3 separate regions of the Homo sapiens genome follow, and all the other regions are linked to region 3. Evidence: fine-mapped expression QTL. A gene starts in region 3. Each other region holds a variant in brackets. All regions are shown on one strand. Distances are from middle to middle.

The links. PIP is the estimated chance that this variant, and not a neighbour inherited with it, causes the effect.
Region 1: its variant is fine-mapped to the expression of APAF1 in whole blood (TOPMed, PIP above 0.99).
Region 2: its variant is fine-mapped to the expression of APAF1 in whole blood (TOPMed, PIP above 0.99).

Annotation. Positions count from the first base shown.
Region 1 is chr12:98,616,035-98,624,061 of GRCh38, forward strand. It overlaps a transcript of IKBIP not described here. Among named protein-coding and RNA genes, the nearest start is that of SNORA53, 20 kb to the left of the region's middle. The variant C/A (reference allele first, on the strand shown) is at 5,025.
Region 2 is chr12:98,716,147-98,724,406 of GRCh38, forward strand. APAF1 (apoptotic peptidase activating factor 1) reads left to right here. Exons shown (of 27, transcript NM_181861.2): 23 at 7,047-7,166; 24 at 7,493-7,618. Among named protein-coding and RNA genes, the nearest start is that of APAF1, 75 kb to the left of the region's middle. RefSeq lists a silencer at 1,571-1,771. The variant GA/G (reference allele first, on the strand shown) is at 4,830.
Region 3 is chr12:98,640,544-98,648,803 of GRCh38, forward strand. APAF1 (apoptotic peptidase activating factor 1) reads left to right here and starts at 4,747. Exons shown (of 27, transcript NM_181861.2): 1 at 4,747-5,292; 2 at 7,776-7,954; 3 at 8,083-8,260. The coding sequence starts at 7,817. IKBIP (IKBKB interacting protein) reads right to left here and starts at 4,245. Exons shown (of 3, transcript NM_153687.4): 1 at 3,980-4,245. The coding sequence starts at 4,158. RefSeq lists enhancers at 2,963-3,590, 3,591-4,217, 4,218-4,845 and silencers at 4,422-4,621, 4,942-5,151.

The DNA.
Region 1 (8,027 bases), 25 kb before region 3:
ATGATTATTCTTAGTTTTTTTTTTTTTGAGGAACCTCCACACTGTTTTCCATAATGGCTATACTTTCCCACTCACAGTGTACGATGGTTCCCTTTTCTCCACATTCTCACCAACACTTGTTATCTTTTGTCTTTTTGATAATAAATATTCTAACAGGTGTGAGTTGATATCTCATTGTGGTTTTAATTTTTCATTTCCCTGATAATTAGTGATGTTGAGCATTTTTTTCCATATACCTGTTGGCCATTACTATGTCTTCTTTTGAGAAATGTCTATTCATGTCCATAGCCCATTGTTTAATTGGGTTTTTTTTTGCTATTGAGTTGAGTTCCTTATATATTTTGGATATTAAGCCATTCTCAGATTTATGGTTCATGAGTATTTTCTCCCATTCTATAGGTTGTCTCTTCACTCTGTTGACTGTTTCCTTTTCTGTACAGAAGATTTTAGTTTGACACAATCATATTTATCTATTTTTGCTTTTGTTGCTTGTTCTTTTCAGGTTCTATTCAAAAAAATCTTTCCCAAGACTAACGTCAAGAAGCTTTTTCCTCATGTTTTCTTCCAGCGGTTTTCAATTTCTGGTGTTACATTTAAGTCTTTAATTCATTTTGAATTGGTTTTTGTATATGGTTTGATATAAGGGTCCAGTTTCATTCTTCTGCATAGGATATCCAGTTTTCTCAACAGCATTTATTAAAGAGATGTCCTTTCCCTTTTGTGTGTTCTTGGCAACTTGGATGAGAATCATTTGAACATACACTTGTAGAAGTATTTCTGGGCTCTCTGTTCCATTAGTCTATGTTTTTTTTTTAAATGCTAGTATCACGCTGTTTGGATTACTACAGCTTTGTAATATATTTTGAGATCGGGTAGTGTGATGTCTCCAGCTTTGTTCTTTTTGCTCAAGATTGCTTTGGCTATTCGGGGTCTAAGGCAACTGCAAATAAGTTATAGCAAATGCTAGAATGAAGGGACCAATGTCCAAGACTATATGTCTACGCTTTATTGGCCTGTAACTTTTATGAACAGTTTTCTGGCCTATCTAACTATCCATGAGACCTTGAATAATTCAAATTCTCAAGTTCCTAGTATGTTGTTAGGCATGCAAAATATGTGGAACATAAAGATGAGTATAACTCGAGTTGTGGCCTCAACTTAGTTTAGTAGAGAAGACAGATAAGTAAAAGAAAAGAATTTCCAAGGTTCTAAAATTCTGATTCCAAATGCAGCTGTTTTTCAACTTTTGTATGTTTCAATGTCATCCTTCTTCCCCACTATACATTATGAACTGAAAGCTCTTAAATTGTCACCTTGATTTAACTTGGACACATTAACTGATAAACATTTGGAGCCACCCAAGTGTCTGGCAACATCTTGAGTTGTTATTTTTGTTGTTGTTTGTGGTGATGGTCCTGTGTCTGTGCACACACATGTGCGTGCCTATATAGCAGTGTTGGGGAGTTGAGTATTTTATCGAACTTTAAATATTTGACATTTTATTGCATTGTGCCATCAGTTAATAAAATGAAGAAGGGAAAATTACATAGCGATAAGATGGGTAGATCTCATAAACCACACAAAGTTGGATAAAGTCGTACAATTAAAACAAAGATGGAAATCAGGTAAGACTATTTAGCTTCAATCAGAAGATTAGCCTATGGACTGTGTGCTCAATTATGAAGAAAAATAAATTAAGAAACAAATGTAAAATGGCTAGAAATACATTGCTAATGCGTATGCCCAAAGACAGATATACAGTAATTACTCTGGAAAAAGAATCCCATTTATAATGTGTAAGTCAATCATTTGACTTTTGCATATTTAACTTTCAGCTTGTTTTCTAGGAAAGTACTATGTTGTAAAGTAGGAAATTATAACTTTCTATTAATAACCAAAACTAGTTTGATTTGACAGCATATACTGTACTACAGTATGTCCTAGTATGATCAAGAACAGTCTCTGCTTTTAGGGAGTTTGTAGTTTAGTTTGGGACACAGAATGTCGATAAATGTGTTACTTAAAATTCAGAAAAGAAGAAATAAAAAAGCTTGAGTCCAGGAGTTTGACGCTGTAGTGTGCTATGATTGTGCCTATGAATACCAACTGTGCTCCAGCCTGGGCACATAGCAAGACCCCCATCTCTAAAACAAAAAAATTGAAATTAAAATTTATAAAAACAAATAGACTGTAAAACATTTTTACAAAATTAAATATGCAGTTTAATCTAAAGATATCTTTTTTTCTAAAATAATTGTGTATTTCTTCAATGTTTTCTTATCAATTATCTTTCTTAAAAGAAAAAATTGAGGCCAGGCGCGGTGGCTCACGCCTGTAATCCCAGCACTTTGGGAGGCCGAGGTGGGCGGATCACAAGGTCAAGAGATCGAGACCATCCTGGCTAATGCAGTGAAACCCTGTCTCTACTAAAAATACAAAAAATTAGCCGGGCGTAGTGGTGGGCGCCTGTAGTCCCAGCTACTCAGGAGGCTGAAGTAGGAGAATGGCGTGAACCCGGGAGGCGGAGCTTGCAGTGAGCCGAGATTGTGCCACTGCACTCCAGCCTGGGCGACAGAGCCAGACTCTGTCTCAAAAAAAAAAAAAAAAATTTGAGATGGGGGTCTCACTATGCTGCCCAGGCTGGTCTTGAACTCCTGGCTCAAGTGATCCTCCCAAAGTGCTGGGATTACAGGCGTGAGCCACCACACCTAGCTTGAATTATCTTTCTTAAATTGTATTTGGATTACTTGGCTAATGCCAACCTTTTGAGATTATTTTGGTTATCATACATTTAGTTTTACTTAACACAAATAAAAATGAATTATGCTCAGAATATTATTTTGAGGGCAGCTTTAAAAAGAAGCATCCATATAGTTGCAAAATAATTATAATGAAGTACAGAAATGGGACAGTAGGACAAAATAATTCTAAGTAGCAACCCCCCCACTTCGCCCCATCATAAATGTTTAATTTCAAAATACACTTGAGGATTTTTCTCCTCAATTGCTTTATGCTTAAATTAATTATTGGTGGATAAGGTGGCCCAAAATGTGTTTTTTGGTAGAGAAGTGAGTTTGCGAAATGTTCCTGTGGGTATGACATTAAGCGGTAGCCACAAATAGGAAGGAAACCAAGAAGTGATTGCAAAATCACATTTTATTTTTAAGGAGGAAGTTTTGCAACATAGTGTATTTGATGAAACAATCTCCCAAGGGAGAAAGGACTAGACGGCTACTTTAATCTATTTCATTACCAGGTTATCATTTATTAATGTATCTACTCTGGTAAAAGTAGCTTAATAGCAATTAAACAATTAAGATGTTGATGAATGAGCTTAGCTTATTCTTAGAAGGATCAGATTATTAGGAAGAAGCTGTTAGTAAACCTCTTTGTTTCACTTGGTTGTTTATAATAGCAATGTATCATGAACTTCTATTGATCTTTATGAAAATATAAGCTCAATACAGTGTGGTAATAGTCTACAGATTGTTGTATTAAGTTATTTTAAAAATTACTTCGGGTTTGGTTAACCTATTTGCCTAGGATGGATAGAAGAGTTAGAGTCTATCAGTAGCTGAAAACAGCACATCAGTGAAGGCTGGGGATGGTGGCTCACGCCCGTAATCCCAGCACTTTGTGAGGCGGGGTGGATGGGTCACTTGAGCTCAGGAGTTCAAGACCAGCCTGGGCAACATGGTGAAACTCCATCTCTACAAAAATTACAAAAATAGCCGGGCTGAGCTGGGAGGATGGCTTGATCCTGGGAGGCAGAGGTTGCAGTGAGCTGAGATCATGCCACTGCACTCCAGTCTGGGCGACAGAACCAGACCCTTTCTCAGAAAAAAAAAAAAAAAAAAAAAAGTACATCAGTGATTTGATTATTTATTTATTTATTTATTTATGAGATGGAGTCTCACTCTATTGCCCAGGCTGGAGTGCAGTGGTGCAATCTCTGCTCACTGCAACCTCTGCCGCCTGAGTTCAAGTGATTCTCCGGCCTCAGCCTCCCAAGTAGCTGGGATTACAGGCATGCACCACCACACCTGGCTAAGTTTTCTATTTTTTTTTTTTTTTTTTTTAGTAGAGACGGGGTTTCACCATGTTGCGAACTCCTGACCTCAAGTAATCCGCCCACCTCAGACTCCCAAAGTGCTGGGATTACAGGCATGAGCCACTGCCCCCGGCCAGAATATTTATTAAATTCCTATCATATATTCAAGGTATGAGGTTAGATGCTGTCCTGTAATGTTAAACATTGCCTGGATCTACAAGCACAGCAACATGGTTCAAGAATATGATTTCTAGGTCCAATCTGCTTTCTAAAAACTTGCTAAAGGATTTTTTTTTTTTGAGACGGAGTCTTGCTCTGTCGCCCAGGCTGGAGTGTAGTGGCGCCATCTCAGCTCACTGCAACCCCTGCCTCCTGGTTTCAAGAGATTCTCCTGCCTCAGCCTCCCAAGTAGCTGGGATTACAGACGCTCACCACCACGCTCACCTAATTTTGTATTTTTAGTAGAGACACAGGTTTCACCATGTTGGCCAGGATGGTCTCGATCTCCTGACCTCGTGATCCACCCACCTCAGCCTCCCAAAGCGCTGAAATTACAGGCGTGGGCCACTGCACCCAGCTAGGTTCTTTGAATTCTATTAAAGGACCTGGAAATTTTATTGATCTGTATAATTTAAAACCATTTAGATCAGGCGCAGTGGCTCACACCTGTTATCCCAGCACTTTGGGAGGCCAAGGACGGAGGATCCGTTGAGGTCAGGAGTTTGAGACCAGCCTGGGCAACATAGAGAGACCCTCACCTCTACTTTTTTTTATATTAAAAAAAGGGTAAATAAGTAAATAAAACCACTTAAAGCCAGAAGGCATCTTAGGGATTATTGATATAATTCTCTCCTTTTACTATTTAAAACTAAGCCCTAGTGGCCGTGCGTGGTGGCTCACACCTGTAATCCCAGCACTTTGGGAGGCCGAGGTGGGTGGATCACCTGAGGTCAGGAGTTCGAGACCAGCCTAG[C/A]CAACCTGGTGAAACCCCATCTCTACTAAAAATACAAAAAATGAGCCGGGTGTAGTGACAGGCACCTGTAATCCCAGGTACTTGGGAGGCTGAGGCAGGAGAATTGCTTAAACCCAGGAGACGGAGGTTGTAGTGAACCAAGATTGTGCCACTGCACTCCAGCCTGGGCGACACAGCAAGACTTTGTCTCAAAAAACAAAACAAAACAAAAAAAACCTAAGCCCTAAAATAAAGTGCCCAGAATATGCAGTGGCAAAACCTATTAATAGATTAGAGGAGTACAGCCTAGGACTCTTCAGCACTGCTTTTTCCTCTTCTCCAACATTTATTCATTTATTGATTCCTTCTCATGCTCAAGGGCCAAACAATTTTAGAGCACAGCTACAGCTTTTGAGGGACTGAGTCTGGTTTAATGGCAACATGGTAGAGAACACATTTGACTCAATTATTGCTTTTTGAGTTATCGAGATAGTTCTACTAACAGCAGATTTGTTGTGATTTTTCTCCCCTAGTTGAACAGTAGCAGGCTCCATGGTGTAGTGAGATGTCCTTGGCCTCTGGAATTGAACAGACCTAGGTCTACAGTGTGACTGCAAGATTCCCAATGTTCCTAAGTCTCCATTTCCTTATTTGTAAAATGGGTCTAATAGCTAGTAAAGGTGTAGTAAGGATTAGTGATAATGACTGGCACAAGGTAGGTAATCAATATATAGAGCTGTTATGATGACGATAATGAAGGCTGGACGCGGTGGCTCATGTCTGTAATCCCAGCACTTTGGGAGGCTGAGGTAGACGGATCACGAGGTCAAGAGATCGAGACCATCCTGGCCAACATGGAGAAACCTCATCTCTACTAAAAATACAAAAATTAGCTGGGCATGGTGGCGCATGCCTGTAGTCTCAGCTACTCGGGAGGCTGAGGCAGGAGAACCGCTTGAACCCGGGAGGTGGAGGTTGCAGTGAGCTGAGATCGCACCACTGCACTCCAGCCTGGGGACAGAGTGAGACTCCATCTTAAAAAAAAAAAAAAAAAGGAATGATTATGATGAATGTACATCTCCTAGAAATGCTTGACATACGTGTGGGTATGTCATTTTAACAGGTGCTGAAGTGTTAGTTCTCTCCTCTCCTGCTGTGTAAAGCTGGGGTGGAGTATTTTGATTTGTATTAAATTAATAGTTTATAGGCTGGGTATGGTGGCTTACACCTCTAATCCCAGCACTTTGGGAAGACCAGATGGGAGAACTGCTTCAGCCCAGGAGTTTGAGACCAGCCTGGGCAACATAATGAGACTGTTTCTACAAAAAAATAAAATTAGCTTGGCATGGCGGTGTGCACCTGTAGTCCCAGCAATCGGAGGAGCTGAGATGGGAGGATCCCTTGGGCCCAGGAAGTTGACACTGTGGTGAGCAGTGCTCACGCCACTACACTCCAGCCTGGGTGACAGAGTGAGACCCTGTCCCAAAATTAATTAATAGCTTATAAATTGAAATGAGCAGGTGCTAGGAAAATTTGTAGAGCTTTTGTCAACTGTGCAAATATGGGGTAAGTCTACAAAGGATGTTTTTTTTTTTTTCTTATTGAGTTTGGTAAATTTTCAGCATCATTACTGTGTAATGGCATCATATCAAAATTTGAACAATGTTATAGATTCATACAAAGGTCTACAATTAGGTTGAGAAGAAAAATAATACTACTAATTTTGCATCTTATGGGTTTTTCTATGAAGCCACACAGGCTAATAAATCAAGATTTTTGGTTATAAAATATACAAGTATAATTAGTCAATAGTTTCTGATCATTAAGCAAAATTTAAGGCAATATTACATTTAAAAATTATATATTCAAAAGTTTAAAAATAATTAGGTGCTTGTATTGTAAAAGTGATTTATTCCTGTTAACATTAAAAAAATTGATCCAGTACTTTTACTTTTTTTTTTGAGATGGAGTCTCACTCTGTTGCCAGGCTGTAGTGCAATGGCGTGATTTTGGCTCACTGCAACCTCTGCCTCCCGGTTCAAGTGATTCTCCTGCCTCAGCCTCCCGAGTAGCTGGGATTACAGGCGCCTGCTACCATGCCCGGCTAATTTTGTATTTTTAGTAGAGACGGGGTTTCACCATATTGGCCAGGCTGGTCTTGAACTCCTGACCTCAGGTGATCCGCCCACCTCGGCCTCCCAAAGTGCTGGGATTACAGGGGTGAGCCACTGCGCCCAGCTGATCCAGTACTGTTATGCTTTTGAGACAGGGTCTTGCTCTGTCACCCAGGCTGGGAATGCAATGGTGCAGGTCACTGCAACCTTGAACACCTGGGCTCAGCCTCCTGCGTCGCTAGGACTACAGGGATGCGCTTTTTTTTGACTTTTAGTAGACATGAGGTCTCACCATGTTATCCAGGCTGGTCTTGAACTCCTGAGCTCAAGCGATCCTCCCACCTCAGCTTCCCAGAGTGTTGGAATTATAGGAGTGAGCCATTGTGCCTGGCCTTACTCCTCCTTACACTTTTTTTTTTTTTTTTTTTTTTTTTGTAGGGACGAGGTCTCACTATGTTACCCAGGCTGTCTCAAACTCCTGGGCTTAAGCCACTCTGCCTCAGCCTCCCAAAGTATTGGGATTACAAGTATGAGGCACTGTGCCTGGCCACTTTATAAGAAATTAATTGACATAAAATTTATTATCAGTTACAAAGATACAAAAATGTGTTTTAGGATATTGGTAATTTTCCCTAAAGAAAAGACTAACAATGTAATTTAATATTTGATACACAGGAAAGTTTTTGAAATTTTAAGCATCTGTGTTAAATAAATGAATGGAAGAAAGAGAGAAAGACAAATTAAGTACATCTAAATCTCTCTAATAATTTCTTAATAGGAAAACCTCTTCATAAATACAGGATATATCTATCTAGATATCTATACATACATACAAACGCATATATACTTTAATAGTTTTCTCATGTTATACTTGTAGAAGTGCAGTTTTCTTCCTTTCCCTTGTGTCATT
Region 2 (8,260 bases), 76 kb after region 3:
TTAGCTTTTAGATGATTCTTTTGATATTACCTTCATGCCTCTATATGGCATGCTTATAGTGCTCTTCTTGATTTTCCCATTTGAGAAGTTATCTACCGAATTCCCTACAGGAAGATGTTGCTTTTTTCCGCCTTCCACCTGTCCTGCCTTCAGCTTATGTGCATGCACACGTTCACAGACACTCATTTATCAATCCATTTATCCCAATTATAACGAAATTTTGTTTAGATCCTTCCTGTTACTATGATCACTGTGTACTAAGGGTACTGTGAATGCATTTTTTGCCTTAACGCAATTTAGGAAAATTTGACCTTTGGGTGTAGTTGGAAATTATTTTACACTAAAACTTTGAAGACATTGCTCCATTTTCTTCCAAGTTCCAAAGTTCACGTTGAAAAGTCTGAAGCCATTTTGCTGCCTAATCTTTCTCTCTGGAAGATTTTAGGATCTTCATTTTATCCCCAGAATCTTGAAATTTCCTGATGATACACTGTGTTGTTAGTTTTTATTCATTGTTTTGGATATTCAGTCTTCCTTTTCAATTTGGAAACCTATGATTTTTAATTCATGGAAGTTGAATTATTTCTTTGATTCTTTCCTTTTTGTTCCAGTTTGCTTTCTCTTTTTGTAACACCCATTATTCAGATGTTAGATCTCCCGGACTGATAATCTAGTTTTCTTTTTCCACATTTCATCTTTCTATAGTGTGCTTTATGTTTTTTTCTTTATTTTTTTTTGAGATGGAGTCTCACTCTGTCACCCAGGCTGGAGTGCAGTGGCGCGATCTTGGCTCACTGTAACCTCTGCCTCCTGGGTTCAGGCAATTCTCCTGGCTCAGCCTCCTGAGTAGCTGGGATTACAGCCGTATGCCACCATGCCAAGCTAATTTTTTGTATTTTTTTTAGTAGAGATGAGATTCCACCATGCTGGCCAGGCTGGTCTTGAACTCCTGACCTTGTGATCCGCCCGCCTCGGCCTCCCAAAGTGCTGGGATTACAGGCATGAGCCCCCGCACCTGGCCTACTGTGCTCTATTTTTGGGGAGTTTTCCTCAGTTTTGCCTTCCAGCCATTTTATTGAGTTTTTCATTTCTACTAGTATATTTCTAATGTGTTAAATTCTTATTTTGTAGATAGAATATTTTATCTCTCTGAGGAGATATACACACAGACAGGTAAATATATATAATATATATATAGAAATTATATACACACACACACACATATAATTTTTTTTTGTTTTTTTTTGAGACGGAGTTTCACTCTTGTTGCCTAGGCTGGAGTGCAATGGTGCGACCTTGGCTTGCTGCAACCTCCGCCTCCTGGGTTCAAGCGATTCTCCTGCCTCAGCCTCCTGAGTATCTGGGATTGCAGGCATGCACAACCACACCCTGCTAATTTTTGTATATTTAGTAGAGATGGGGTTTCTTCATGTTGGTCAGGCTGGTCTTGAACTCTGGACCTCAGGTGATCCACCCACCTTGGCCTCCCAATGTGCTGGGATTACAGGCATGAGCCACTGTGCCTGGCTTATATATATAATTTTTTCCCCATAAATTTTTGTTTTGCTGCATAGTTGCTGTTCCCTCCAAGTTGCTTTTTTCTGTTTGGTTGTTTTGACCTCCTATTTTGAAGGCCTCCTTAGCTCTCAGTGGTCATTGGCTATCAGAGATCTGTACTGAACAACTGGCTGAAAGCTCTGTGTGTTGACTGAGATCTTCTCTAAAAGGTGAATCTGAAAGGGGAAACTTTGTTGTGAGTATCTTCAGGTCTTTTGTCTTGGTCTCCTCAGATTCCTAGAGAGGAATTTTCTGGTCTTTTGCCTGGAGGATAAACCTGGCTGGCAGGTTCTCAGAGCTAAGTTGGGGAAGATAACAGGAAGTATTAATAGATGTTGGATCTCAACATTTAGTATGTACACCTTCCCTTGATCCCTCATTCTCAGAATTGTAATTCTACCCTCAGTTGTGCTGGTGCCCTTAAATTCAGAGATTCTTCTTTCTAGTTTGCTGTCACTGTCTGTCTACTTTCTTCCTTTTTTTCCCATAGTAACTTTGGGATTCAACAGCAATTCTTTTCTTTTCTTTTTCTTTCTTTTTTTTCTTTTTGAGACAGTCTTGCTCTATTGCCTAGGCCGGAGTGCAGTGGTGCAATCTCGGCTCACTGAAACCTCCACCTCCGAGGTTCAAGTGATTCTTCTGCTTCAGCCTCCTGAGTAGCTGGGATTACAGGCACCTGCCATCACATGCAGCTAATTTTTTTGTATTTTTAGTAGAGACAAGGTTTCACGATGTTGGCCAGGCTGGTCTTGAACTCCTGATCTCAAGTGATCTCACCTTGGCCTCCCAAAGTGCTGGGATTACAGGTGTGAGCCACCGTGCCCGGCCTTCTTTTTTATGTAAAATCAAGTTTCCTAAACTCCTTGGAGGAGTGGGGAAGTCCAGCATTTCTAGCTTCACAGCTCTGCAGCTCGTTCTCTTATTTTCACGAGGCATTAAAAATATGGCCTTACTGGGCGCAGCGGCTCACACCTTTAATCCCAGCACTTTGGGAGTCTGAGGTGGGAGGATTGCTTGAGGCAGGAGTTAGAGACCAGCCTGGGCAACATAGCGAGACCCCATCTCTGCAAAACAAAATAATTTAGCCAGGTGTGGTAGTGCATGCCTATAATCCCAGCTACTCAGGAGGCTGAGGTTGGAGGATCGCTTGAGCCTAGGAGGTCCAGGCTGGAGTGAGCTATGATCATGCTACCGCACTCCAGCCTGGGCAACAGAGCAAGTCCCCATCTCAAATATATAATGGCCTTGTTCTTAGGAGATCTCTTTGCCCCATCTCCTTCCCTCTCAGTTATTTCGACCTTCTCTTTCCTTTGATGCCCTTATCCTCGTTCTACTCCATTGGATTCTATTCCCTGTGGTTTCTCCTCACTGTAGGGTTGTTCTGGTTAATTTTGAGAGCTCACAAGGCTCACACTGCTCCAGTCCTTCCAGACTGTACCTCACACTCAGTGTCTCCTGCTCTTCTCTAGTTGTTCCATTGCACTTTTCGGTGAACACTGTGTGGCTATCTTAGGATTCTCTGCCTCCTAATTCTTAATACTTATATTCTTAGCCCCACCCTCATTTCCTCCTTTGGGTATACTTAGTGCCTTCCATTTTTGAGCATTTTGGGAGTTCATAATGCCGATTTTGTTGCTTTAGACTTTTTCTTTTCTTTTCTTTTTTTTGAGACAGTCTTGCTCTGTTGCCAGGCTGGAGTGCAGTGGCATGATCTTGGCTCACTGCAGCCTCCGCCTCCTGGGTTCAAGCAATTCCCCTGCCTCAGCCTCCTGAGTAGCTGGGACTACAGGCCCGTGCCACCATTTCCGGCTAATTTTTTTTTTTTTTTTTAGTAGAGTTGGGGTTTCACCATGTTGGCCAGGATGGTCTCGATCTCTTGACCTTGTGATCCTCCCGCCTCAGCCTCCCAAAGTGCTGGGATTACAAGCGTAAGCCACCACGCCTGGCCACTTTTGACTTTTTATAATGCCTTTAGGATTCTGTTTTCTTGACTTTGCTGAGTCAGTTACCATTCTCTTGCTTTCCAGCCTCCCACATTTTGTTGCTGTTATCTCCTTTCTCATTCTTTTGATCTTGCCATTTTAGTAGGGCTTTAGAAGTGAAGGATAGAATGCATATGTTCAGTGGAAATTATTATATTCTTTTATTTAGTATATATATTAATTGTGGTGGCAATATTTAATTGTATTGTTAAAAACCCTTTTGGGAAAAAGATCTTTTAATGTTATGTCTGTGTGAGTCCTAGGAAGCAGTATGATTGCAATGAAATTTGGCTTTAGTACAGAAACTTACTTGTTATAGGCTCCCATGACACTGGTGTTCTAGCTGTAAAACTCAGTGTAATAGTCACCTTTCTTCCTCTCCAGATGTCTTTGGAATGGGTAAAACTAAAAACTACATCTGATGAAGTTCTTTTGAGACATTGTATACTATGTATTCTATCAAAAGTTAAATTCATAAGGTTTTTATGACCAGCTTGACGATTTCAGGTATTCTCAGCTAGGGGGAAGAATAATTTCTAGAGATATTTTTAGAAAAGGAGTTAGATTATATTTAGAAATATGAGTTAAGTAGTTGTGTTTCTTCCTCTTTTTCTGTTCTACTCAGAATACTTTTTACATTTACAGTGTTTTAAATGTAACAAAACTCTATAGATATTTTCGAGAAATGACTGGTTGGGTTTTGTTTTCATTTTTTAAGGTTTTTGTAAATGATTAAGTGGAGGTTTGTTTTAATTATCTTTGTATCCCCAAAGCCTGGAATCCAGTAAGGGTTCTGTAAATCTTTGCTGAGCTGAAGTTATTGCCAAACTTTGAAGAATCAGCTCACCTGATTATAGCCCTTAGGATTGTGAACATTGAGGTCTACTTTGGTAGTTTTTGATCCTTTACCTTGAAGTAAATAAAGGCCAAGTATTACCCATGCTTACATGAGCCAGTATATAGGACTATGTTAGTTCTTGCTGGTATGAAAAGTTTCCAGCCGGGTGCGGTGGCTCACGCCTGTAATCCCGGCACTTTGGGAGGCCGAGGCGGGCGGATCACGAGGTCAGGAGATCGAGACCATCCTGGCTAACACGGTGAAACCCCATCTCTACTAAAAAATACAAAAAAATTAGCCAGGCGTGGTGACAGGCACCTGTAGTCCCAGCTACTCAGGAGGCTGAGGCAGGAGAATGGCATGAATCTGGGAGGCGAAGCTTGCAGTGAGCTGAGATCCCGCCACTACACTCCAGCCTGGGCGACAGAGCAAGACTCTGTCTCAAAAAAAAA[GA/G]AAAAAAAAATTTCCTTAACATTTCTACAATTTAAATTTTATTCATATAGCTGAAAAAAATTCTACAAGTATATATACATTGCAAAAATAGTCAATGATAGAGACATCCCCAAACTCAACTTTTGCATTTGACTAATGGTGGTGGAAGTTTAGTGATATTAAGGTTATTCAATTAGCACAGTGTGTTTCCGTGCAACAACAACAACAACAACAAATCACTCATCATCATTGCCTAGTCAGAAACCTTCTGTAACAAAAGCTGCAAAGGCTATTCTTAATCTGCCCTCAGTGGTTGTCAAATTCTTTGTTATATCTGCTCCAGAAGGCTGTCTGAGTTCTTGATGCAGAGGGCAGAAGTAAGATACTAAGTTAGAAATGAACATTGAATCAGGCAAAGCTAGAATAGGCAGTGTCTGTAAACTAGGAGGAGCTGTTCAGCATAGCCATTGATCCTCCAGTCCAGTGAAGCCCAGAAAGCGGGAGGAGAGAGCCAGGAGTTTCCTAGTAGAAATGGAATAAGGTCTTTTATGCTTAGTCATATGGGGTGCCCTTCCTCTCTGGTATGATTTGGGAAGCCAGAAATGCCTCCATTTCTTCCCCTTCCCCCAGCATATCTCATTGGGTTCTTAAAATATGAAAATTACTAATTCATTCTCTTTAGAATTACTCTCACTTCCAGTTCGTCTTCTAAAGTTCTCTTGCTTGCATACAAGACCCCATGCTCCTGATATCCTGCTTCTGTGAATGAGCATTCTGAGGCAGAAGATGAGAGATCTGAAAGCCAGGGCTTGTTGGGGAGGACGACTGCTAAATGTGGTGGAAAAAGAAGTAAAAAAAAGGGGAATAAGAGATGTCATTTATTTTAAGATTTTGCCTAGGTCTGATTAAAGATATTTCTGCTGTTTAGCATTGGCCAATAAAAAGCTAGACTCAGAATGTTACTCATGTGCATACCTGTAGTTGTGGCTGCTTTTTCTTTATCTTTTTATTCTTTTGGAGCTGGCCTGTTTTCCCATACCTCAGAATTTTAGCTTCATCAGGCCCACGGGGCTGTTTCTTTGGATACCTTCCCAACCTTTTTTCTCTTCTGTTTCTTCTGCGTCTCCTATGCTCTAGTCAGATGGACTCATGAGCAGGTCCCTTTTCACGTTTCCCTGCTCCTATACTTTAACTCCAACATTTATTCCCTTTGAAGAACCCTTCTCAGTTTGTGAATCACACTTTAAACCCATTCCTCAAGCCTACTTTGAATGTGCTATCTCCAAATTTTCTCTAAGGAATTACTTTTTTTGAGTTTCACAGAACTTTTATCTCTATCATTGTATCTTCTATTGTAGGACTTTTTGGGTTTGTTGTTGTATTTCTCATTTTCTTTGCTAAACTCTTAAGTTTCTTTATGCTAGATCCTTGTTTGATTCCTATTTGCCTTGCATATAGGTACTAAATAGACATTTATTAAATAAGTTAATTTGAAGTCAAGTATTAATAAAGCTCTAAATACAGTTGCTTTTAGTAATTAAGAAATGTCCTTTACATAGACATAGCATAAAAATAAACTTCTGTGTACCTCTGTGTCTCAGATACGTTTGTATGCATATTTTGTGCTAGTTACTCATGTTATTTCATTCCCCCCACCCCTTTCCTTATGTCTGAGGAGCTCCTCCTGAAGCTCCACATGAAAAACAATGCCTTCTCACTTCCGTCATTTTGAGGATTGCGATGGGGGATAGCTGAGATATTTGAAGCTTGGGAACTCTTGTGTTTTGGTTTGAAGCTGCTTTGATCAACTGGCCTTCCCAGGCCAGCTTCAGTGGGGCCAGGATCTGTAGACTTCCCCAGCTTGTAGGTTCAGAAATCTGTGACTATGTAATTAGGATAATTTTCTCAGGAAAATTTAATCAGATGGTGAGCTCACTGGCATATTGTGTGTTTTTTTTTTTCTATCTTCTGGTATAATTAACTGTTCTCCAAGCAACTGAAGAAAACAAATTTTATTTAGGAGGAAAAGTATTTTATTTTGCCCCTAGTCAATTTACATAACCGCAGCTTCTGTCTGTAAAATGTGGACACCACAGTCTTCTCTCTTATTCCTCTCTGTTTTACTGAAATGCCATGTGAGTAAAAGACTTTAGACAAGAGAATGTACACTCTCTCCACCCCTCCAATGAGATAGGATCGGGGGAGGATTATAACAGACTTATTTCTTTGATATTCAGGTATGGAATTGGCAATTGGACAAATGTATCTTTCTACGAGGCCATCAGGAAACAGTGAAAGACTTTAGACTCTTGAAAAATTCAAGACTGCTTTCTTGGTCATTTGATGGAACAGTGAAGGTAATTTAAAGTATAAATTTGTTTTTTGAAAAAGTATTCTCATATTGCAATGATTATATTGAGACAGTCAAAAGCCACTGTGAGGCTAATTACTTACTTAAAAATTTTTAATTTTTCTCATGCTTGTTTTCTGTTAATTGCAGTCACCTACATCTGCTGTGTTTAATGAGCATTTATACTGTTAGTCACATTTAAAGTAAAGGGGTCAGAACAGCCAGTGTATTAAAACTCTTGTTTTATAGACCTGTCTTGTAGCTGATTATGCTTTTTAATATAAAATGTTCTTAAAAGTGTCAACCTCCAAGTGTTTTTTTTTTTTTTTTAAGGTATGGAATATTATTACTGGAAATAAAGAAAAAGACTTTGTCTGTCACCAGGGTACAGTACTTTCTTGTGACATTTCTCACGATGCTACCAAGTTTTCATCTACCTCTGCTGACAAGACTGCAAAGGTAGGTCAATCAATTGAAACCATGCATAAAACTTTGGTAGTGGTTATGTATAATGAGTTCAAATAATATATGCAAAAGGACATAACAGTTGCTCTCTACATGTCTGTTTCATATTTTGTGATCTTTTGGAGGATGCCCATTGGCATTTAGTTGGTATCAAATGAATGAAATGAAATACATTGAGGACTTCTGATTTCTCCCTTATGGATTACTTTTTGTCTATAACTAATCAAATGCAACCTCTACTGCATATTGTAGGCAATAAAAATCATTGAAAAGCATTTACATTTAATTATACACTGACAATACAATTTTAATATAATTAATGTAATATAATTGACGTGTGTCTAAAATCACATTCTGGTGAATGATGCTGCTTGGTGGGGGACCTCAAGTACTCTCTTCTCTCCTTTTTTCTCCTTCTACCAGTCTTTCCAAACTATAAACCTTGGAATTGTCAGGGCTGTATCCTGTCTTTTGTGCTCTGTTGATGACTCTTTAGTGCATCTTAGAGTTATCTTCTCCTCTTTGTCACCACCCTGAAGAGCATGCTTTCCTCCTCCTCCACTGGTGAACTGTCCCAGCATCCTGCCTCTGGTCTGCACCTCTTCCACTTTATCTTCCATACCACTGCCTGTGTCC
Region 3 (8,260 bases):
GCTGATTAAATTTCTATGTAATTAAATAAGCATGAGTGACAGGTTTTGTGTCTTGTTTAGTAATTTAACAACTTTTTAACTTTCTGAAAGTAGAATCACCTCAATTCTTACCTGAAAAATTTCTATAAGAGTTTAGAAAAGAGCTATGCAAACTGACACTCAAGCCATATGGGTTTGGGCAACTTATCTCCAGTGTTTATTGTCAAGATGACATAGGATATATCAGGCCTTTTTTTTTTTGCAGGGTCTCACTTTGTCACCCAGGCTGAGTGCTGTGGTGCAATCAAAGCTCACTGAAACCTCAAATTCCGGGGCTCAAGCAATCCTCCAACCTCAACCCCCCAAGTAGCTGGGACTACAGGCATGCGCCACCATGCCTGGCTAATTTTTTGTATTTTTTGTAGAGACAGGGTTTTACCATGTTGCCCAGGCTGGTCTTGAACTCCTGAGCTCAAGATCCGCCCAACTCGGCCTCCCAAAGTGCTGGGATTACAGGTGGGAGCCACCACACCTGGCCTATCAGGCCTTTATTTAGCAGAGAGAAGATATTAAAGCAACACACTTTTAAGTTTCTTATGTATTATTTCTCTTTTCTTTCCACATAGGAAATGGTCTGAAGACAATGATATAGTGTGATTCCTTGAAATCCTTCTTGGGCAGTGGAAGGGTTCAGATTTTTTCCCTCCAACTTAATCAGATGAAGAGTGAGAGTAAGCAGTATTTAAGAGTACACAGACAGGCACACATATGCACTTGTATTTTAACCACCAGGGCCGTGTCAGTACGGAAAGCATTTAATAAAGATTTGATAGACCGACTTTTAGATGCTGAATTACGTGTTTTAGTGGTAAAGATCTCAATGGCTTTGTCAAAATTCTAGTGAGCTTTTAAGTATTTTAAGATGCCAAATACTTGCTTTTTATCTGGAAAATGTTTACAAATGTCTTATGGGGATATATTTTTATTTCAAAATTTACTATGAATAAATATTTTGCAATAAACAGCAACCAAAGTACATTTGCTTCAATTTTTGCAGCAAAAGATTTCACAAGAGCAACTAAGAGGCAACTATTTAAATAATAATTATAGAATCTGCCCATAAAAAACACATATAATACATACATTTTAGAGAGACAGGGTCTTGCTCTGTCTCTCAGGCTGGAGCACAGTGGTATAATCATGGGTTACTGCAGCTTTGACTTCCCAGACTCAAGCTATCTTCTCACCTCAGCCTCCCAAGTACCTGGGACTACAGCGAATGCCACCACACTTGGCTAATATTTAAAAATTTTTCGTAGACACGGTCTCACTATGTTTCCCAGGCTGGTTTCAAACTCCTGACCTCAAGCAATTCTCTCGCCTCAGTTTCCCAAAGTGTTGGGATTATAGGCATGAACCACTGGGTCTGGCCCCCAAAATTATTTTTGATATAGCATTGTGTTATCATTTTGCAAACATAGTTCAAATTAAATCTTCCTAATGAATGTAATACATTCATTACAATGTAATACAGGAATCACTAACAGCAAATTCCTGATGTGAGGGAAATTTTATTCCCATAAAGTTTAGTTTTCTATTAAAGCTTATCCCAGGATAGTAACTAACTTTCCCAAAACACAAAAGGTTACTTATTTATTTAGGCGAAGTCTCGCTCTGTTATCCAGGCTGGAGTGCAGTAGCAGATCTTGGCTCACTGCAACCTCCACCTCCCAGGTTCAAGTGATTCTCCTGCCTCAACCTCTGAGTAGCTGGGATTACACCAGGCCCAGCTAATTTTTGTGTTTTTGGTAGAGATAGGGTTTCACCATGTTGGACAGGCTGGTCTCAAATTCCTGACCTCAAGTGATTCGCCTGCCTCGGCCTCCCAAAGTGCTAGGATTACAGGCGCAAGCCACTGCACCTGGCCCAAAAAGGTTTTTTTTTCAATTTACTTAAAGGAGGTCAAGCATTTTAAGGCATAAGAGCCGTTTATTTAAAACAGTAAATTCAGTACATTTATTCCTTTCAGATCAAAATTAACATATTCCGTATTAGTAAAATAAATAATGCTATCTGCTTTTTTTTTTTTTTTTTTTGAGAAGGAGTTTTGCTCCATCCTGCAGGCTGGAGTGCAGTGGCACGATTTCGGCTCACTGCAACCTCCGCCTCTTGGGTTCAAGTGATTTTCCTGCCTCAGCCTCCTGAGTAGCTGGGATTACAGGAGCATGCCACCATGCCTGGCTTTTTTGTATTTTTAGTAGACACAGGGTTTTGCTATGTTGGCCAGGCTGGTCTCAAACTCCTGACCTCAGGTGATCCACCCACCTTGGCCTCCCAAAGTGCTGGGAGTACAGGCATGAGCCACTGCCGGCAGGCTGACAATTCTATTGTTTTTGAAGAGGGCGTTTAATCACTTTATTGTGACAAAATTTTGTTTGTTTGTTTTTTGAGATGGAGTCTCGCTCTGTTGCCCAGGCTGGAGTGCAATGGCACGATCCCAGCTCACTGCAACCTCCACCTCCCCATTTCGAGTGATTCTCCTGCCTCAGCCTCCTGAATAGCTGGGATTGCAGGTTTGTGCCACCAAGCCTGGCTAATTTTTGTATTTTTTGTAGAGACAGGGTTTCACCATGTTGGCCAGCCTGGTCTTGAACTCCTGACCTCATGATCTGCCCACCTCGGCCTCCCAAAGTGCTGGGATTACAGGTGTGAGCCACCGCGCCCAGCCGTAACAAATCTTTTAACTCTGAAAAATACACTATTTGGGATGAGTCACCAGTAAAGTATAATTCCATATGTAGTAGCATAAAAAATGTCTAGATGTCCAGGGTCTCTTCTAAAATTCTATCACTCTGGAAGATTAACAACAGTCTTACTAAATAACTTTACACATGAATGAAAAATGGAGAAAAATTCTATTAAGATGCCAATCTTATTAAAATGAAATGGGCTATTCCCTCCTCCCGCCAGAAAAAAAAAGGCTGGGAAAATAAAATTCACAAGTTGGTTTTTTTCTTTTTTCTTTTTTTACGAGTTGGTTTTAAGGTTATTTCTAATATTCATTTTTCCTAATGACACCAATATATCGCCATTTACCTGATTTTAAAACTGCAACTGGTTAGTTTTAAGTGAACACAAGTGCTATGTTTTTGTAGCTTTACCATATTCAATCTGTAACTTACTTAATAAAAGACCTTAAATTCATAATGCATGCACGGTGATCAAAATATGAGCACTCCTCCAAGCTCTGCTACTATAACGTTTGCTCCTTTGGGAGCATAATGATATGGTTTTCTTTTTTTTTTTTTTTTGAGACGGAGTCTCGCTCGGTCGCCCAGGCTGGAGTGCAGTGATGCGATCTTGGCTCATAGCAACCTCCGCCTCCCGGGTTCAAGCGATTCTCCTGCCTCAGCCTCCGGAGGAACTGGGACTACAGGCGCCCGCCACCACGCCCGGCTGATTATTCGTATTTTTGGTAGAGATGGGGTTTCACCATGTTGGCCAGGCTAGTCTCGAACTCCTGACCTCAAGTGATCCACCTGCCTCGGTCTCCAAACATAATGATCTGTTTTAAGGTTGCAAGTATTTCCATTAGGTATTTATGGGGTGAGTAGGGTGGGGCAGATGTGTCCCGGAATGGGGCACAGCGGACAGGAAGTAACGGTTTATAACAACGTGAACGCTTCTGACGTGTAGCGGGAGCTTCAGAAAGCGTGGCCGAATCTGCAGCTCTTAACAAATGGCTCGTTCCCAAACCTTAGCCTCAACTCCTTCTGAGCGATAGGGGCATGCTACCAGCACGGGGGGAAATGAGATACAAGAAACGCCCGAAAGGGAAAAACAAGGCTGGGCTGTTTCCTTCCTTTGGGGTCAAGACAGAGGCACAGAAGGCCCAGGTCTGGGAGGTTGGATCACCTCCGGCTGGATGTTGAGCCGGGTGGGAGCCCAAACAGCAGGGGGCCCACAGGAGGCCGGCCCAGGCAGCCTCGCGTCCACTTACCAGGCCAGGCCCAGGCACGTCCCCAGCGACAGCAGGCTCAGGCACGTTCGGGGGTCTGCCCAGCCCCCGCCTCCGCTGCTCCGGGCCACGGGGGTCTTCCCGCCCTCGCTCCGCTTCCCGGGCTCCGCAGCAGGGGCTCCCTTGGGCCCCGACTTCTTCCGGCTCTTCACCTCAGACATGTCTGGAGACCCTAGGACGACAAGCCCAGGGCAGCTTCTTCACCAGGGGGAGCAGGACGTGGCCGCCTTGGCGTTCGTGGGAACCCTGGGCGGTGACCGCGCCCCCTCACAGACTTGGCACCGCCCAGAGCCCAGCCCCTTCCCTCTCCCCGGCATCCTCGTTGCTTCACTGAGTCTTTCAGCTGCCAGCTCCATAGTTCCCCTAGGAGAGGTGGGCGGCGACCTCAACCCACAGCGCCTTCCACTGCGATATTGCTCCAAATCCGAGGAAATTCAAACTCCCGGGCGCGCGCAGGCCGACGGGACCCGAGGAGGAGGGGCAGGACGAAGGGGTCGCGCGCGCCACGTCGGGCGCGCCGCCGCTGCCCGAGTCCGGCATTGGTGGGAACGCGGCGCGTCCCTGAGGCTTAGCCACGCCCCGTCCGCGGGGTAGGCGGGCACTTCTACGCGCGCGGGCATGAGCCGTGGCAGGAGTGCGCGGCGGCAGCGGTGGCCGCCCCTTGGGGCTTGGGGTGTGTTTATTTGCATAAGCGGGCGCGCGCCGTCCGGGCTGGGTGGATCCGGCGGGATTTGACTGCTCCGCTGTCCAGAGGCGGAGAAGAAGAGGTAGCGAGTGGACGTGACTGCTCTATCCCGGGCAAAAGGGATAGAACCAGAGGTGGGGAGTCTGGGCAGTCGGCGACCCGCGAAGACTTGAGGTGCCGCAGCGGCATCCGGAGTAGCGCCGGGCTCCCTCCGGGGTGCAGCCGCCGTCGGGGGAAGGGCGCCACAGGCCGGGAAGACCTCCTCCCTTTGTGTCCAGTAGTGGGGTCCACCGGAGGGCGGCCCGTGGGCCGGGCCTCACCGCGGCGCTCCGGGACTGTGGGGTCAGGCTGCGTTGGGTGGACGCCCACCTCGCCAACCTTCGGAGGTCCCTGGGGGTCTTCGTGCGCCCCGGGGCTGCAGAGATCCAGGGGAGGCGCCTGTGAGGCCCGGACCTGCCCCGGGGCGAAGGGTATGTGGCGAGACAGAGCCCTGCACCCCTAATTCCCGGTGGAAAACTCCTGTTGCCGTTTCCCTCCACCGGCCTGGAGTCTCCCAGTCTTGTCCCGGCAGTGCCGCCCTCCCCACTAAGACCTAGGCGCAAAGGCTTGGGTAAGTTGACCTCCTCGCTTTTCTCCCCGAGCCAGGTTCTTTGGAGGCTTGGTAGCTGATTTCAGGGACTGAGAATTTGAGGACATGGAATATTTGATAACCATCCTGCTCCTGTACCAGGAAGAGAAATTCTGTAATGAGGAAGTAGTAAACTTGGGGTTTTCGTGGATAAACGTGCGCTGTTTTCTGTTTTACGTCCATGAAGAGTTTTGGCTTTCCATTTTGTTGTGGGTTACAAAAGGTTTTGAGACTTAGTTCAGATAAGTTGTGCAGTTTTAAAACGTATTTAAGATTTGCATATTTTAGTTTAACAGGACTAGGTGAAATTGGAAATTAGTTTCAGAAAACCAGAGTGTCTTATTTGCTTAGCTATTGGACATCACCTAAAAAATTCATTCATTCTTGTTTTTTCACATCGAATTTCATTACTATAAATTAAGGAACATTTTATGTTTAAGAGGACAAAAACGTTATTAACATTTTAAAAAATGAGAGTTTTGATTCGAATCAATAACTTTTTATCAGTTTTGTGCCCCTGCTGGGCATTTTGTAAGCCTTGACAAGCATAGGCAAATGCCCTACGTCCGTCCCTGTTTTTCCAAGTGCTACATTTGGTGACTTCAAAAACAGTCATTGAAGCTTGATAATTATTGCCCCCTTCTGTGAGCTCCAAGTTACTTGTGCTCTGTTTTTGCACTTCGGGCATTCACATTCCCACTCTCTCTCTCTTTTTCTTCTTTGAGTAGACTGTGAATTATTTCAGGCAAATGACTCAATCTTTTCTGTAGTCTTGGTGTCTGACATATAGGGAGGGGCACAAATGTGTATTGAATGAATGAATTGATAAACCCGTTTAGACTCTTTCACTCTATACATTGTGTAAAGTTCTGTTAATGTTTTGAAAACTTGCAGATATTGTGAACTGGGTTTTATGCCCATGGAAAAATTTGCATTATATTTGAAATAAAGTTGCTAGAAACGTCAAGTATTTTACTATAAAGGCTGTTATTCTTTCCTCATGTCCTCCTGGTCTGAGAAATCACATCAGAAAGTGTTTCCTGTTGCTTTGTGGGAAATGTGTTTAGCAAGGAGGACCTAGAGCTGACATCCTCCTTGAACGAGAACTAATACTCAATAGTAACAATGCTCTATTCACTCTTATGTTTGATAAGGAAAACAAGAAGTCTCTTAATATTAGGACTTCAATGTAATCACTATTTTATACAATCTTAATTAAAAAAGGAAGTATTTTATTGTAAGAAATGATAATGTGTGCTAAAAAAAATTGACAGTAGAGGCCGGGCATGGTGGGGCTCACAAGTGTAATCCCAGCACTTTCGGAGGCTGTGGCGGGTGGATCACCTGAGGTCAGGAATTCAAGACCAGCCTGGTCAACATGGTGAAACCCCGTCTGTACTAAAAAAAAAAAAAAAATAAGACAAGGTGGGGGAGAAATCCCAAATTTTGCTACTCAGAAGTAACTCAAACATTTCGATGAATAAACTTCTAAACGTCTATATATATTCATATGATACCAACACTTGTTTTTTTTTTTGAGACAGAGTCTCAGTCTGTCGCCCAGGCTGGAGTACAGTAGAGTGGTCTCGGCTCACTGCAACCTCTGCCGCCCTGGTTCAAGCAGTTCTCTTGCTTCAGCCTCCCGAGCAGCTGGGATTACAGGCACCTGCCACTGCATCTGGCTAATTTTGTATTTTTAGTAGAGACAGGGTTTCACCATCTTGGCCAGGCTGGTCTTGAATTCCTGACCTCGTGATCCACCCGCCTCGGCCTCCCAAAGTGCTGGGATTACAGGCATGAGCCACTGCGCCCGGCCCCCACGTTATGTGTTGTATGTGGGATCATGTTTCTGTTTTTTTTTTTTTTTTTTTTCAGCAACAGTATTATGAACATCTTTCCATGTCAATACATGGAGATATGTGTCATAATTTTGAATGGCTGCATAATATTCCATTTTATATACATACCCTAATTTTTAAAATCTATATTCAGAATGATGGACATTTAGGTTGCGTTCATCACTGAAACATCCTCCATTAATTCTTTTTTCTTTTTATTTTTTACTCTAGCCTCCCAATGTGCTGGGATTATAGGCTTGAGCTACCACACCTGATTGGAAACTCATTAATTCTCCTTGTGGATATTTTTACATATGTATTTGAATGTCTCCTTGAAGTAAATCCTTAGAAATGGGATTTCTGGGTTAGAGAGAAAGCTTATTTTAAACAATTCCATATCTTACTGCTTTCCAGAAAAATTGCATTCATTTTCTAGTTTCCCCAATTAGTGCATAAGAATGGCCATTTTCTCATACCTTTCCAAGCACTGGGTTTTGTCCATTTAAAAATTTTTGCCAAGGAAAAAAAATCAGTTTTGTTCTTTTTACGTTTCTTGTTTATTAGTGAGATTATGTATCTTTTCATATTTTTATTGGCCTGACAAATATTTTGGTGTTTTGGCTGTAGCTCATGGTTGACAGCTCAGAGAGAGAAAGATCTGAGGGAAGATGGATGCAAAAGCTCGAAATTGTTTGCTTCAACATAGAGAAGCTCTGGAAAAGGACATCAAGACATCCTACATCATGGATCACATGATTAGTGATGGATTTTTAACAATATCAGAAGAGGAAAAAGTAAGAAATGAGGTAAAGCTCTCTGAAGCAGTCCACACTTCCTTAAAAATTTTTAGAATTTCAGAACTTGTACTGGTCTCCACTACTTTATGTTGCATACATATTCATTGTTGTATACTAAACTACTTAATTTTTTTTAGCCCACTCAACAGCAAAGAGCAGCTATGCTGATTAAAATGATACTTAAAAAAGATAATGATTCCTACGTATCATTCTACAATGCTCTACTACATGAAGGATATAAAGATCTTGCTGCCCTTCTCCATGATGGCATTCCTGTTGTCTCTTCTTCCAGTGGTAAAGATTCAGTTAGTGGAA